Regions from separate parts of the Homo sapiens genome. Here region 1 is linked to region 2. Evidence: fine-mapped expression QTL. Tissue or cell type: whole blood. Region 2 holds a variant in brackets; the other region holds the start of a gene. All regions are shown on one strand. Distances are between the middles of the regions.

The links. PIP is the estimated chance that this variant, and not a neighbour inherited with it, causes the effect.
Region 1: CANX starts here. The variant in region 2 is fine-mapped to the expression of CANX in whole blood (TOPMed, PIP above 0.99).

Annotation. Positions count from the first base shown.
Region 1 is chr5:179,697,523-179,700,143 of GRCh38, forward strand. CANX (calnexin) reads left to right here and starts at 1,445. Exons shown (of 15, transcript NM_001746.4): 1 at 1,445-1,580. RefSeq lists an enhancer at 550-1,079 and silencers at 1,090-1,499, 1,540-1,829.
Region 2 is chr5:179,815,309-179,818,061 of GRCh38, forward strand. It overlaps a transcript of SQSTM1 not described here. Among named protein-coding and RNA genes, the nearest start is that of SQSTM1, 4.2 kb to the right of the region's middle. RefSeq lists silencers at 1,374-1,823, 1,934-2,003. The variant C/T (reference allele first, on the strand shown) is at 1,490.

The DNA of each region.
Region 1 (2,621 bases), 120 kb before region 2:
TATTTGGATCATGTAGCATCCAGAATTTTATTCTGCTTTGAATAGCTGCTTCCCCAGGTAGACAGGAAACCAAAATTCTCCTACACAAATTTTGGGGCTGAAGTTGGGGCGCCGTGGCTCACGCCTGTAATCCCAGCACTGTGGGAGGCAGAGGCAGGTCGATCACCTGAGGTCAGCCTGGCCAACATGGTGAAACCTGTCTCTACTAAAATACAAAAATTAGCCGGGCGTGGTGGCGGGCGCCTGTAATCCCAGCTACTCGGGAGGCTGAGGGAGAATCGCTTGAACCCGGGAGGCGGAGGTTGTAGTGAGCTAAGATCGCACCACTAGACTCCAGCCTGAGCGACAGAGCAAGACTTCGTCTCAAAAAAATAAAAATAAAAAAAATTTGGGGGTTGAGGGTTGGATGATACTAACTCATGCAAACACCAAACCCTGCCTTTCTTCCCCTTCCCGGTGGCAAGAGGGCTTTTCAGATCAGTGATACATTCGCTGATTCTAGTGTTTTCCACCCTAGTAGTCAAGCCTTTGGGTGTCCAAACAAATAGAGAACAAGAGATCAGGATCTCTAAAGGTCTAGAAAAACCCTGGGCCACTTCCATTTTGTGAGGTTCTCAGCATACTGAAAACTGAAGATGTACTAAGAGTGGGTTACTAAAATGGTGGCGTATCTTAAATCTTTCCATGGCACCATCCTTTCTCTCGTCCTGTCATCCCTGTATCTCTCTGCCCTGACACCTAATCTCACTTCAGGAAACATAAATTGAAAGTTCAAATAACCTCGGATTATATTATTCTGGACTGTGTGTTATGCTGGGCGACGAGGCTGCGCAGGCTCCTGGGCCGAGCCATGACTCTGCAGGAACTGCGGCGCCGGCTCACACAGCGCGGAGCAGTGCACGCCAATCCGGCCAGGCGCTCGCGCTGGGTTCTGCTCACGCCCGTAGGGGCCCGCGTTCGCTGCAACGGGCCCTTCCTGATGGCCGATCGTCGGACTCCTACCCCTTTTGCCGGCTGCCGTTTGCCCCGTCAGCGAAGGGCGCGCGATGCGTCCCAAGTCTCGGCTCCAGGAACCAGACGGGTGAGGGCTACTGGGGGTTGGGTTGGAACGCCCCGAAGGCACCACAGCAACCGACGCGGGAACGCCTGTTAAACCAGCCCCGCCCCGAGACGCGCGCGCCCGGCGGTCTCGATCCAGCGTGGCCCGCCCCTCACCTCCCGCCCAACCAACAGCCACTTCCTGCCTCACTCCCGGCCAATCTTCACACTCCACGAAGAATAGCCGTAGGGGGCGTATGGGACGGTGCGTAGAGCGATGCCCACGCCGGCCAACCGGATGTCGGGGCTTGCGCGGGAGGGCGGGACTTGGCGCCGGCTGTGGCTACTCAGGGGCCAGGGGCGGGCACAGGGCCGGGCTTCGTGCGGTGGGGCTCGCTCGCGCGGCAGCGGTGGCCGAGGCCTCTTGGTTCTGCGGCACGTGACGGTCGGGCCGCCTCCGCCTCTCTCTTTACTGCGGCGCGGGGCAAGGTGTGCGGGCGGGAAGGGGCACGGGCACCCCCGCGGTCCCCGGGAGGCTAGAGGTGAGAGGGGAGACCTGAGCGCGTCCTCGGGCCTGTGAGGACCTCGGGGGGCTGGGAGCGCCTCTGCGGCTGAGGGGTCGGGCGTGGCCGGCGACTGAGGGGTCGGGCTGGCTCTTGAGGGCCCAGGCCCTGGCCGACGCGCCCGCCGTGAGCGAGGAGGCCCGAATCCGGGCGTCTTTGGTTGGGTTGCGGGCCCAGGCCGCGCCGCCGGGGTCGGGAGGCGTGGCAGGTGGCCCGACAGCCTTCTTTGACCTCTGGGAAAGCTGACTTATTCCTATGGCTTTGCTTCTAGGGCTTTCTTAGGCCTCTTTGCCGGCTGCCTGGGCAGCCGCGAGGTGGGCTGGAGTAACTGGGTAAAAGTATAGGGTGGAATCGGGCCTACTAGGTACCCCTAGTAGTAGGGAAGGGTGGTATTAGACCGAGAGGGAATGTTTACAACTAGCGTTACAGTTTAATATTTGAAAATCCAAAGCGGAGACTGGACCCTAGTTCCCTGAAGAGAAAGGGGAATGTACCAGAAGGAGAACACGCAGTGGTTGAGAAACTTAGCAGTTACAGCACCTATTCTGGAGGCGAGTAATCCAGTTGGAGAGGGACAGGGCGTTAAAAGCAGGAAAGCCCCCGAAAGCTCATCTAAGTGCATCTCTTTCCACACCGGAGGCCTGGAGGTATGAAATGACTGGCCCAAGGTCATGCGATTAGTGTACTGATGGTGCTGGGATTATAGTTCAGGGATAGACCGTGCAGTGGTTAACGCTAAGGCCCTGGCTCGAGTCTTTGATTGGTCATTGGTTGCTCTGTGAACTTCGGCAGTTTTCTTACCCTTTGTGCCCCCGTTCTTGTCAAGTAATGGATATAATAATACCCGATGGATTTGTGAGGATTAAATTAAGATATGTATACAATAAGACAGGGAAGTCCGACATTTAGTAACTGCTCGATGATCATTGCGGTACGTTATTATAATCTGAATGCCTTTGGACCAATACACTGCCATCCTAGTGAACTGGTTCAGTCCTGTTTCGCAGGACCTGAGGTCAC
Region 2 (2,753 bases):
TGGGAGGCTGAGGCACAAGAATTGCTTGAATCCGAGAGGTGGAGGTTGCAGTGAGCAGAGATCAAGCCACTGTACCCCAGCCTGGGCAACAGAGCAAGACTCTGTCTCGAAAAAAAAAAAGAAAAGAAAACCTGGAGCAGGCATGGGGTATACGTCATGGGTCACTACTCTTGGATACAATTGACGAAAACCACAATCAACTGGCTTAAGCCGTTTTATAACCCAGCATTAGGCCAGCCTGGATCCAGGGGTCAGATACTGAGATCAAGCTTTGATCTGCTCAGGATTCCCCCCTCCCCAAGGCTCCTGCTTCCAGATGACCCCAGTGTGCATTTCGTCCGCCAGCGTGGGTCACATGTCCATCCCTGACCAGGGTGCTACAGTGCTCTGGTTGGCCAAGCTTTGGCCATGGGGTTTACCTCACCCTACTTTTACGCAAGAGTATGTGGTGGCCTAACACAGGTGGGGGACCCTGCTTCAATACCAGCCTTTATCCACAGATGACCCCACGCCTTCTGCTCCAGAGCATCAGGGTTATAACACATGGGACACACGGGGCACACATACACTCCCACGCAACATCCACACACCCCACAAAACTACCTGAGCCCACATAGTCAGGGCAGGGACAGGCACAGAACAAAGTGGGTGCACAGGGACTCGCAGGGAGGTCGAAGAGCTGAGTCTCGTCGGGAGGCTGAGGGGGAAGAGCGGGCACTGGGCTGCGAGTGTGCAGAGCTGGAGGTGGGGGACTGCGGTAAGTACCCGTCCTGGGGTGCGGGCCCTGCTGGGAAGCATTGGGAGCAAGAAGGGTTAGATCCTCAAAGGAGGATAATTCTTCCAGAAGGTTTTCTTTGTTTTGTTTTGTTTTGTTGAGGCACCAAGATTGGAGTGCAGTGGCGCCATGTCAGCTCACTGCAACCTCCGCCTCCGAGGCTCAAGCAATTCTCTTGCCTCAGCCTCCCGACTAGCTGGGACTACAGGCACCTGCCGCCACGCCCAACTAATTTTTTTAATTTTTAGTACAGATGGGGTTTCACTCTGTTGGCCAGGCTGGTCTCGAACTCCTGACCTCGTGATCCGCCCACCTCGGCCTCCCAGTGCTGGGACTACAGGTGTGAGCCACCGCGCCTGGCCTCTTCCAGAAGGTTTTCGATGGCAGCAGGTGGAGGGGAGCGAGAGGGCCATCGCTCCTGCTGCAAGGGCAGCCCCTCCACGGGATCCCACACTCCTGACCCGTTCAGTATAGACGGGGTACTCCCGGTGCGGCCTGTCACCGCTCTGTCTGGCGCTGGCGCTCCTAGAGAAGGCCATGCCGACCTCTCCCCCACCTCGCTCCAGATTCCCCTTCTTGAGCTGCTTTTCCCACAGTCCCCCCAGGCGCCACTGAGAGCCTCCCGTCTTCGATGGGCTTGGGGCGCCTGGACCCTTCCGGGGTCACTTTGCCGTCTTCCTCCAGCCCCCCTCCCTACTCCTTGTCGCCGCCCCC[C/T]CGTCTTTTCAGGACCTTGCGCACTCAGGCTGGCCCTATGCTTTGGGGTACCCCAGCAGTGCCCCCGGGTCTCCGGCCACCCGGTGACGGAGGGAGGGAGAGGCTGGCGAGGGGGCGGCGCCTTAGGTCCCAGCGCGACCCGCCTCTCAGCCCCTCCCGCCGGCTACAGCCGCGCGGGACGGGGCAGGGACCTCGAGAACACCGGGGACTTGCGGGCCGGTGGCCCCGGGCAGGCCACTTCTGACGCGGGTGCGAGGCCTTCCGCGGGCGTGCACGGTTGGGCCGGAGCCGCGCCGGGGGCCGGGACACGCCTGGGGTCAGCGCTGGCGTCGCCGCTCGGGTGGGGTGGGCCGGGTTCGGGTCCAGTCTCCTCCCCACGGGCGGCCCGCGCCCCGTCTTCCAGTGACCCCCACATCCCTTGCGCCCCGAGCTGGAACTTCGGCAGGTTCTGCCCCGGGCCGCGCGCGCTTTCTGGGGACCAGGGCTGTGGTTCCTGCTCCGCGTCGTGCCTTTAGACACCGCCGGGCGTTCGTCCTCCATCCCTCCCCCCTTTTCCCCACTCCGCGGTTGACGAGGGCCGCCCCCAAGTGGCCATGTCCCCCGGCATGGACGACCCCTCAGTGCCCCTGAGGGCCCAGGGTCTCGCCCCCGTCCCGAGGCAGGCCATGTTTGAATTTATTTGGAGAAATTCGCCCAGCCCAGGGGACCTCTTTCTGCAGCTCTGGCCTTCCAGTAGGAGAGGGTCCCTGGGGCTCTCAGGCCTGACAACTTGGCATCACTGAATTCTCTAACCATGTCTGTCCATGACTTGAACTCCTTTTCTTTTAGAAAGATCTTTGCAAACCCCTTGTGGGCGTGCCCCTCCCATGGCCCCCGTGCCTCTTGCCTGGGCTTTGGGCTTGTCTGAAAGGGCTAAAAGGGGGTGATGCCTGGCCGGGCGGGTGGCTCACGCCTGCAGTCCCAGCACTTTGGGAGGCCGAGGTGGGCGGATCACCTGAAGTCAGGAGTTCAAGACCATCCTGGCCAACATAGTGAAACCCATCTCTACTAAAAATACAAAAATTAGCAAGGCTTGGTGGCAGGCACCTGTAGTCCCAGCTACTTGGGAGGCTGAGGCAGGAGCAGGAGAATTGCTTGAACCTGGGAGGCAGAGGTTGCAGTGAGCTGAGATCGTGCCACTGCACTTCAGCCTGGGTGACAGAGAGAGACTGTCTCAAAAAAAAAAAAAAAAAAAAAAAAAAAAGTGATGTCCAGTGCCTGGGGA